3 linked regions of the Homo sapiens genome follow. The protein of the gene in region 2 interacts with the protein of the main gene of each other region in a biochemical or structural test. Each region holds a gene or a part of one and is shown on either strand. Other genes may lie near its edges. The genes, in order: APBA3, FAT1 and RAPGEF6.

What was found.
Region 1: the proteins of FAT1 (region 2) and APBA3 interact in a test that uses a peptide from one of them, tested with the Homo sapiens proteins (one large-scale study listed by IntAct).
Region 3: the proteins of FAT1 (region 2) and RAPGEF6 interact in a test that uses a peptide from one of them, tested with the Homo sapiens proteins (one large-scale study listed by IntAct).

Annotation. Positions count from the first base shown.
Region 1 is NC_000019.10:3,751,693-3,755,344, reverse strand, and holds part of APBA3 (amyloid-beta A4 precursor protein-binding family A member 3), read left to right. Parts: intron 1-1,004; coding exon 1,005-1,150; intron 1,151-1,239; coding exon 1,240-1,326; intron 1,327-1,418; coding exon 1,419-1,580; intron 1,581-2,354; coding exon 2,355-2,525; intron 2,526-2,624; coding exon 2,625-2,837; intron 2,838-3,652. UniProt on the Homo sapiens protein: May modulate processing of the amyloid-beta precursor protein (APP) and hence formation of APP-beta. May enhance the activity of HIF1A in macrophages by inhibiting the activity of HIF1AN.
Region 2 is NC_000004.12:186,591,242-186,594,893, forward strand, and holds part of FAT1 (protocadherin Fat 1 isoform 1 precursor), read right to left. Parts: intron 1-3,652.
Region 3 is NC_000005.10:131,460,641-131,464,292, forward strand, and holds part of RAPGEF6 (rap guanine nucleotide exchange factor 6), read right to left. Parts: intron 3,642-3,652; coding exon 3,401-3,641; coding exon of another isoform or gene 3,397-3,400; exon of another isoform or gene 2,973-3,396; intron 1,449-2,972; coding exon 1,065-1,448; intron 1-1,064. UniProt on the Homo sapiens protein: Guanine nucleotide exchange factor (GEF) for Rap1A, Rap2A and M-Ras GTPases. Does not interact with cAMP.

The sequences.
Region 1 (3,652 bases), on a different chromosome or scaffold from region 2:
AGCTGCCTGACGCGATTGTGATTAAGATGTTCTGGAATCACGGAGCAGAGAAGTCTGATTCTAGAGTGATAATAAGATTCTAAAACTCCTGACAGAATTGCTATGAGACCTGTCAGAGAGTTCTGGAATCAAGGGTCAGAACCAGCTGGGGTTCTGGAGAGTATGGGAATTTTAGACAGGCAGCAGGGTCTGTCTCTGTTCTGAGTGGTTCTACAACCCGGGAACAGAGCTGCCTGCTATCCTGGGCTGACTGCAGACGGTTCTAGAACAGTGGGCAGAGCTGGCCAGTTCTAGATTGATGGAGGGAATTCCAGAACCAAGAAGCAGGGGTCCACTGTGGTTCTAGAATGTTGTGGAGGTTTCGAAATTGGAGTGGGGGGTGGAGCGTCGTGGCTCACGCCTGTCATCCCAGTACTTTAGGAGGCCAAGGCGGGTGGATCACTTGAGGTCGGGAGTTTGAGACCAGCCTGGCCAACGTGGCGAAACCCCGTCTCTACTAAAAATACAAAAACTAGCCAGGCGTGGTGGTGGGCGCCTGTAATCCCAGCTACTCATGAGACTGAGGCAGGAGAATCGTTTGAACCCAGGAAGCGGAGGTTGCAGTGAGCTGAGATCACACCACCGAGCTCCAGCCTGGGCGACAGAGCGAGACCGTGTCTCAAAAAAGCAGGAGTGGGACTGTCTGGTTCCGGCCTGATCATGGAATTCTGGGGACACGGGGTGAAGGTATCTGTGGGTGCTAGATCTGGCTTTGAATCCAGCCATGGCCTGGACTCACTGGTTTCCCACCTGCGAGTCCTTGAGGGATGGACAGAAGGTTCTAGACCTGTGAGGGCCAGGCTGCTTGGATGGTTCTAGAACAGTGGGCTGTGCTTCCTGGCTGGAGAGTGCTAAGCCACCAGCTAGAACACTGTGTCTCCCGGCCATCTCGGAGAGCGTAGCCCTGGGGCAGAGCCTGTGGGAGTGGGCCCCTGGGGGCCGACCCTCTTCGCTGTCGCCCTCAGTGCCTGGTCCCTGTGACCATGAAGACCTCCTGGACGGTGTCATATTTGGGGCCAGGTACCTGGGGTCCACCCAGCTGGTGTCGGAACGGAACCCGCCCACCAGCACGCGCATGGCCCAGGCCCGGGAGGCCATGGACCGCGTCAAGGTGAGGGGGCGGCCGGGGCCGGGCGGGCAGGCGGGTGGGCTGCAGGCTGGGTCTGTGGGGGCCTCCACCTCCCACGCCGCCACCCACAGGCCCCCGATGGGGAGACCCAGCCCATGACGGAGGTGGACCTGTTCGTCTCCACCAAGAGGATCAAGGTCTTGACAGCGGACTCCCAGGTACGGGGCAGGGACCCGCCCCAGGGATGCGGGTGGGGTGATCGAGCCTGGCACGGCCCCCCAACCCACCCAGGCTGCCTCTCCCGCCCCAGGAGGCCATGATGGACCACGCCCTGCATACCATCTCCTACACAGCCGACATCGGCTGCGTGCTGGTGCTGATGGCGCGGCGGCGGCTGGCACGGAGGCCGGCACCCCAGGACCACGGCCGCCGCCTCTACAAGATGCTCTGCCACGTATTCTACGCGGAGGACGTGAGCAGCCAGGGCGCGGGGCCACCCTCCTGAGGCCCTCCTCACTGCAACTGTCGCCTCCCTCAGTGGGCCGTGCATTTAACCTCCCTCCCATAAGCTTATTTTTAAATTCTTTTTTTGGGACAAGGTCTCCTTCTGTCACCCAGGCTGGAGTGCAGTGGCGCAATCATAGTTCACTGCAGCCTCAACCTTCCAGGCTCAAGCGATCCTCCCACTTCAGCCTCTCTAGTAGCTGGGACCACCGGGGTATCACCATGCCTGGCTAATTTTTGTATTTTTTATAGAGACACGGTCTCGCTCTGTTGCCCAGGTGAACACGGTCTCAAACTCCTGGGCTCAAGCGATCCACCCACCTCAGCCTCCCAAAGTGCTGCAATTACAGGCGTGAGCCACCGCGTCCAGCCTCCTATAAGACTCCAAGACTCTCGGCCGACTCCCCGAAACCTTGCCCGCTCCTGGGCTGTCCCTGCCACCCATGAGGCCCCAGGCCCCCTGGCTGGGTCTTTGATAGCTTTTCCCACAGCCCATGCGCAGGGAGCTGCCTCCCTCATCGTCCCCCCAGCCCAGGGCTGCCCCTCCCCTTCCTTCTCCCCGTAGATTCCCCAAGATGCGGCTGTCTCTCCACCTCCCCCAAAGCCCCAGGGCAGAAGGCTGTGTCCTGGGACTCTCACCCCAGGTGGGGACAGGAGGGCTCAGCTCTGAGGACCCTGGGGACTTTGGGGACCTGGAGGAGGTGGGTGGGACACCCCAGGGACGCGCCACTCCTCCCCGCAGGCCCAGCTCATCGCCCAGGCCATTGGCCAGGCCTTCGCCGCCGCCTACAGCCAGTTCCTACGGGAAAGCGGTATTGACCCCAGCCAGGTGGGCGTGCACCCGAGCCCAGGCGCCTGCCACCTCCATAATGGGGACCTGGACCACTTCTCCAACAGTGACAACTGCCGGGAGGTGAGTGAGGTGCTGGGCAGCCCCCACCTGGTGCCCCCCACACCCGTGCACCTGCACCGGGCCCTGCTGAGCAGCCTCCGCGCCCCCTGTGTGTCCCAGGTGCACCTCGAGAAGCGGCGAGGGGAGGGCCTGGGCGTGGCCCTGGTGGAGTCGGGCTGGGGCTCCCTGCTGCCCACAGCCGTCATCGCCAACCTGCTGCACGGGGGGCCTGCTGAGCGCTCGGGGGCCCTCAGCATCGGGGACCGCCTGACCGCCATCAACGGGACCAGCCTGGTGGGGCTGCCCCTGGCTGCGTGCCAGGCCGCTGTCCGCGTGAGTTTCCTGGTGTGGCAGGGCCCCCACACTCCCAGGAAGGGGAGCTGAGTCCCAGAGAGGTCTCCTCCCTGGCCAGGTCTCTCCAGCCCAGCCAGGAGGGACAAAGTCGAACTTTTAAGTCCTGCCCACTGGTGTGCCCTTGGGGAAACTGAGGCCTGGAGAAGGGAGGCCACTTGTCCAGGGCACCTCCCTAGTACCAGAGCCAGGATGGAAATGCGGGTGGCCCAGCTCCAGGGCTGGGCCACTCTCTCTCTCTAACAAGAAACAGCTAATTTCTGGGGGGGTTTGTTTGTTTGAGACAAGGTCTCACTCTTGCCCAGGCTGGAGTGCAGCGGTGCACCTGGCTCATTGCAGCCTTGACCTTCTGGGCTCAAGCAAATCTCCTTCCTCAGCCTCCCGAGTAGCTGGGACCACAGGTGTGCACCACCACGCCCAGTTTATTGTTTTATTTTTTGTAGAGATGGAGTCTCACTATGTTGGTTGGCCAGGCTGGTCTTGAGCTCCTGGCCTCAAGTGATCCACCTGCCTCGGCCTCCCACAGTGCTGGGATTACAGGTGTGAGCCACTGCACCTGGCCATGTTTTTGAGTCTCAACCTTTGTTGCTCAGATGGGGAAACTGAGGCCCAGAGATAGGGAGGGACCTGCCCCCGTCAGAGGAATGAGGCCACAGTCCGTGCAGCCTCTTACAGATGTTTGCAGCCTGCCTGGAGAGCCCGGCTGTCGGCTTGGCTTTTGGCCATAAGGAAGCGATATGGCTCGGGTCAGACAGCTTCGACCCCATGCCCACCGGGCCCGAGTCTGTTCTCTATCA
Region 2 (3,652 bases):
ATCACAGCAGAAAAACGGTCACATCCGTGATTTTTTAAACAAGGCTTTCTATGCATTCAACAGTGTTATAATTTGGGACAAATATTTGATTGATAGTTCACTTCTAGAAATTTCAGTAATTTTAAAAGACTGTGGTGTCTCTAAAACATGAATACGCCGGCATTTAGGTAACATGTATCTACAGAATCATTTTTAAGTCTAGTAACAAAAGCAGCAATTCCTTTAAACAAAAAAAGATCAACAACTTTTGTTACGTAGGCACTAGTAATAGCTTTCAACTTTAAATTCCATGTGCACTTCTTGGATATGCCAAAAAATATTTGTCAATGAAGGAGACTGCAATGAAGGAACTGTTGAAATTCTGCTTCTATAAGCTTCAATAATATTTAAAATGCTGAAGGTCATCAGTTTAACACTAAAACTTCACTAGACAAAATACAGGTATGTTTCTGATTTGCCCAGTGAAAACATGGTACTTCTTAGGAAAAGAAGTGTAGGCGTCATCAGTAACTATAACCATGAACACTGGAGTATCTAAGCCTCTTCTGCCTGATAGCAAATGGGGCCCAGAGCTATCCTCCCTCCTCCTGAACCTTGACAGCATCATGTCCTAGCATAAAGGATCCCCCGAACTCTATGATGACGTCTGTGTACTCGATGGCCTCTGTAAGCAGTTCTCGAGTGGGATCTCTAGACCGGCACCATCAGAGCTACCTGGGAACTGGTGAAAAATGCAAATTCTAAAGTCCCAACCCAGACCTGTTGGATCAGAAATGCTGGTGCTGAGAACCAGCAATTGGGCTTTTAACAGCCCTCCAGATGATCTGATTCACATTACAGTTTGAAAAGTACTAGCCTGTGTCTTCCCCATGTGATGAATTTCAGTGCACTAATAAAGGGCTATTTTAATTTAAAATAATTTGGGGAAGGTGCTCAATGTCCTTTCTTACAACTCTGAGCAGATAAAGCTTCACATTAAATAATTTTCACTAAACCAAATATGAAAATATTCTTTTACCATGCTCTACACCCTTTTCTTTGATCATACTCAGGGAAAAACCAAAAGTGAAGAGTCAGTTACAGGTTAATTATGAAAGCTTTACATTATTCAAGTCTTATTCCTGTACATACGAAGAAGAATTTTTGTTTCAAAAAAATTTTAGGTAAAATTACTTCTGAACTTTTTCTTGATTGCACCACCTACAGATAAGCTCTCCAGATCTCATGTAAATCACTATGAATGGTAAAAAGGAACAAAGACATAACATACATTGAGATATTTTTTGCAAAGCACTCATATTACGTATATACACACCTGCATAAAATAAAAGGACTCAACCCCCTCAAAACCACAAACTGTTTTTTCCTACCATTGCAATAGCAATGCGGCCGAGCTCTACGACACGGCTGCTGCAAGACACAGACACAAGCACGAGCACTTACAACTGTACCTTCTGTGCTCACCGTGTCAACCACAGCATTGACAAGGTGCATTACGGTCACTATGGAAGCTTGCAAAAAGGTACAAAAGCAGTCAATTAGGAACATCTTCAGTTAGTTAGAAAACAGTGCATGAAATAAAGTTTTGTATTATACCATTTCTACCTCAGATTCCAACCGATGAGTGCTTTAATACAACCACATAATGATGCGTGGTCTCCTCACTGTTAGCTGTGTGTCTCAGAGACTTTTTTAATCGAGCTATATATTTGTTATTATTAATCAAAGGAATAACGTAAACATATTTTATTGGAATTTAAACAAAAAAACTTTTAGCTTTAAATTTTTTCACAATTACAATTATGCATCATGCCAGGCCAAAACGATTCTTATTTTAACATCTTACAGGCAAGACTCGACATTCCAAGACTACAGTCTGTGGTTCGCCACTCTTCCGGCTGCTTAATCACTCACACATTGTCCCCCAAAAAAAAGAAATTGAAGGAGAAACATATGCAATCTAAAACAAGAATGTTTTTGTCCCTGTTCTGATTGCTTTCCCTGCAAATTTCTCGTCTGTTTGCAGATGGACTAATCGCTGGTGAGCTAATGTACGAGTATAGGAGGAGACTCTGTCCGTCTGTTTCCTGTGTAAATTCCCTTTTCATTTGTGTATCAGATTGTTTTAAAATAACTATGCCAAGGTAAATATGTACGCATGTGGTAGGCAGAAGGCTGGCCCTCAAATAGTCCACGTCCTAATCCCAGGAGCCTGTGAATATGTCACTATACATGGCAAAAGGGACTTTGTTGACGCGGTTCAGATAAGGAAATTGAGATGAGGGATTTCCCTGGATTACCTGGGTGGGCCCAGTGTAATCATAAGGGTAACTTTTCTGCACAGAGGCGTTCCCAGTTACGGCTGGGGGGAGCTCTGCTGACAGAAGGGTGGTCAATGAAACACTGTGTTGCTGTCTCTGAGATGGAAGAAACCAAGAGCCAAAGAATGTGGGCAGCCTCTAAAAACCAGGAAAGGAAGGAAAACAGGTTCTTCCCTCGAGCTGCAGAAGGCAATGCAGCCCTACTGATCGCATGACTTAAGCCCTGTGAGACACAGGGGTTGGGCTTCTAAGCTACAGAATGACAGCAACACAAGTCTACATTGTTTTAGGCCACAAAGTTTGTGGTAATCTGTAATGGCCCTGGAAAACCGGGAATACGACGCAGGAACAGACTCTCAGCAGACTTTCAGTTTACAACTGATAATTACATTATGGTAATGAGTAAAATAAAAACACTCCTGTATATATGTTTTTTCTCTGCATTGTACTATCTGGAAGCTAGTTTTCATAACTAATTTGACCATAACTTATTGAAAGCACTTGGGACTATTTTTTTTTTTGAGACAGAGTCTCGCTCTGTCGCCCAGGCTGGAGTGCAGTGGCGTGACCTCAGCTCACTGCAAGCTACAACTCCCGGGCTCAGGCCATTCTCCTGCCTCAGCCTCCCCAGTAGCTGGGAGTACAGGTGCCCACCACCACGCCCGGCTGATTTTTTTTATATTTTTAGTAGAGACGGGGTTTCACTGCCAGGACGGTCTCGATCTCCCAACCTTGTGATCCGCCCGCCTTCACCTCCCAAAGTGCTGGGATTACAGGCGTGAGCCACTGCGCCCGGCCACCTGGGACTATTATTAAGAAGACTGATGTTCCAACAACAAGAACTAGAAAGAAAATGCTGATAAAATTCTGAAATGTATTTATAAAGAGCATTTAGGGGCCAAGATATAAATTATTACATAAACTGGAAACAGGAACTTCTTAGAATTAAAATTGATAAAAGACATAATTCTATCTTGTTGGTTTAACAAGCAAAGCTATGTCCATACACCCTATTCCTAATCAACACAGGTATATTTTGATACCATATATACGGTATCAAAATATACCTGTGTTGATTAGGAATAGAGTGTGTATATATATATATACTTGAAAGTATATATATATATATATATATATACTTGAAATCAGAAATGATAGCACATACTTATAGCTATCTTTAGTTTGAAAAATGACTGCAATAGATAATGACTATATGGATTTATGGACTATATGATGTATTATGGACTATATTACTCTGGATTGAATAATTATTAGTGGGGTTACCTTTTCCCACCAATAAAATATTTGAAATGTATAACATATTAATATGT
Region 3 (3,652 bases), on a different chromosome or scaffold from region 2:
TCCACTGACACATTGCTACTATATGGGAGAGGCAGGATTCAAATACAGGTGCAGCTGATTCTAAAGACCACTCTGTTAATCTCTATTCAATACTCCTAGAGTGTTCAGTTCAGTTGTAGACACTGGTTAATTTAATAAAGGCACATCCTATTACCATGACAGGGTCATGAATAAAGAGTCCCTATAAAGATTCTACTTTTTAATCTTAATCTACATGAGGAGTAGAAACAAATCATTATGAATTCTGTGGGGGATGTGTATAGGTAGGATTAGTTCAAGTGGAATTATGCTGCGATTTATAAGCACATCATGGCCTTAAAAATGGAGCTAACTACAACTCCTCTCCCTTTTAAAATTAAACTTGTTTTAAGAAGAATCCCTTTGTTGATCTACAGTGTGCTAAATAAAGATCAGAAAATAAATTACCTACAATTAACTTTTCATAATAAGTGGGAAGAAGGGAGTGGGAGAGCTCACGTAATTATCTACACTTCCTGGGCTTATGAATGTCAAAACATTTTTATTATTCTAACAGCCTAACTTGCTTGAGGAACACCACATCCAGTGAACCTCATGTAGTGCCTGGCAAACAGGAAGAGCTTACCAAATGGTTGCCATTATTATCAATGTTGTTGTTTCAAAATAGCAACTTTAGGTCAAAGTACTGATACCATACTGTGATTTTTCAGAGTCAAATCATAGTGAGGCAGGTACTTAAAAAAGCACAGTACAGAAGTCTAATGATAAAGACCAGCCACTGGGCACATATCCAAAGATGATATAATCACTCAAGGCGGGGGGTTGGAGATGAAGGGAGAGAAAGAAAAATTAGAAGGCAATCACCCACTTTCATTTACAAAAAAGAAGTAAAAGAAAGATGGAAGAAACAAAAATAGAAAAAGCCAATACCACCAAAATGGAAAATACATTAAATCTAACAACACTTCAATAAAGGCATATTAATTGAACATTTCTTTTCATAGGCATTGAATACCTAAGTAGAAAATCAGCTGCATGTAATGACAAAACCATACAGACATTTGTACCTATTTGTACCAACTTACCTTATTATTGCAAACATGGAATTGAAGTTCTTACATTCTCGACAATGAAGTGCAATTTTAATAAAATGCTTAATAATCTTCATTCGTTTGAGCTGATTTGCTTCAGTTAAAATTTCTGAGGCAACCCAGAATGTCTCTTGGTTTACAATGTCCTCAAACCTCTTCAAATGAGTATTTCCTGTTTTGGAATTTAACTTAAAAAGGTCATCGATGTACTCAGTCGGTTCAATATTACGAAACAAATCAAAGTCCCTCATTGACAGCTGGGTGGCCACCTCAATGGTACTGAGCTGCAGCATGGATAGCTGGCTTTCCTTAACTAGTTCTTGAGCATCTTCATCTGAACATAAGGTTTCTGTTTCCATGTTATTTTTTAAGTAATACCTAAATGGAAAAATTTTTTTAAATAAATGTATTCATAAATATGATTAAATAAGAGCACTTTTCCTTTTTGTCGTTGTAAAATATCATTTTACTGTTAATAACTTTTAGCCAAAAATATTAATTTACAGATAAAATGAAAAGTTAACATTTTAAATGAAAAGATTTTTGAGAAGTCTGTCTCTTATTCTACCAACTGGCATCTATTAAAGAGTAAAAATAATGTTGTTATGTCATGAACTTAATTATTTTATGAAACTATCTGTCAGATACTATTTTAGGTACTGGCCTTGCCCTCGTAAAGCTTTTATCTTACTGTTTTATCTGACAGAGGATTGGTACTATGTAAATATTTGTTTATGAATAGCATGAATTCTAATTAAGGCAAAATAAATTCCTGAATCAAGACGGTTAAAAATCTCTATTCAGAAGTTACTCCACTCACTTCCTTTTTAAATAAATTTCCAAGTGAAGCAAGAGGAATGAAATCTACAGAGGAGGGGAAACACTTCCACTAATGGTTTCTCCCTTGTTAAATACAAAACCTCATTCCAGCAAGTGGCACTTATCAGTTACCACACATTAAGACCTATATTTTGCTTTCTTCTCTTAAATCAACAATTCTACAGCACTTAAAAGTAAGAGACAGGAAACATCTTGTGCAGGGATGTTACTAAGGAAACGAGGTAATGTATCACCTGCTTTTACTTCGTTCTTTTCTAATAATCCAACTTGATTTAAGCCTAAGTTTGTATCCATCTATCCATCTATTTTTTACTGTCAAGAAACTCTTTTTTCTGCTTTTAGACTGTTCATATGCCTAAGACAATGCCATAAATAATAGTGCTGAAACTCATTATGCTATATATAATAATGTTTAACATTATAAGGTATGGTATACTTAGTAACTCATTTAATCCTTACAACATTCCCATGAGGTATATTCTACTATTACTATCCTCATTTTATGGGTGAGGAAATTCAGGTAGAGAAGCTACATATGACTTGCTCAAGGTCACATAGCCAGAGCTGGGATTTGAATGTGGGCAATCTGAATCCAGGGTCTATGCTCTTAACCACTATGTACAGCCAGCAAAACAGAGTTAACTCATTCTCATTTCACAGCAACCATGGCATGCAGTCACTGTAAGCTTTCTAGGGATCTTGTTCTACATATGAAACTGGGTTACCAAAAAGATTATTCTCAGAGTGGTTGAGTGTGGTAGCTCACACTCGTAATGCCAGCACTTTGGGAGGCTGAGGCAGGCAGATCACTTGAGGTAAGGAGTTTGAGACCAGCCTGGCCAACACGGTGAAACCTCGTCTCTACTAAAAATACAAAAATTCGCCAGGCATGGTGGCATGTGCCTGTAGTCCCAGCTACTCAGAAGGCTGAGGCAGGAGAACCGCTTGAACCTGGGAGGTGGAGGTTGCAGTGAGCTGAGATCGCGCCACTGCACTCCAGCCTGGGCGACAGAGGGAGACTCCATCTCAAAAAAAAAAAAAAAAACCAGAGTAAGGAACAAATGTACTACAGAAATAATCTAGTTTATTAAATAATTTTCAGAACACATTTTAAAATTTTTAAAATTTTCCTGCATATTCATTAAAGGAAAACTACTTAGAAAAAGAACTGTGAAAACCATGGCTTCTTTTGCCAAAGTACATACTGGCCATATTAAAAACAAATTTATAAATTAGTAGATACAGTCATTCAGATATATATGAAGATTTGTATCATTCAGCTTCCTCTATAAAAAAACAGGAACTAGATTATATCAGTGGTTCTAAGAGTTTATTTTAGCAGGAGTGACAAGATATTTTATCAAGCGTCTTCTGGAGTGAATTTAGGAGCACTAAAACATGATAATGTTTCTACTTACAATAGCTGTTTTAACAGGAAATCTTCAAAAGCACATCTACAAATAAGCACATCCACTAATAAGCTTATTCACCTTCCATTGAGTTGAATTCTATCAGCTAATTTGGAGAACTGATCTGGAAGTCTTCTCTGTTTTATGACACCCTCAGGAGTAACAGAAACTTCACAGAGAGAATATGTGTCGGATGCACCGGTCAAACCAAATTCATGAACAGCATGAAAAACTACTTCTTTAGCTGTGGTGTCTTTACTGATGATAATGTAGCAACTTTGCTGATCCACTTTGAAAACTCTTATAACTTGATCAGGGATATCTACATAAATA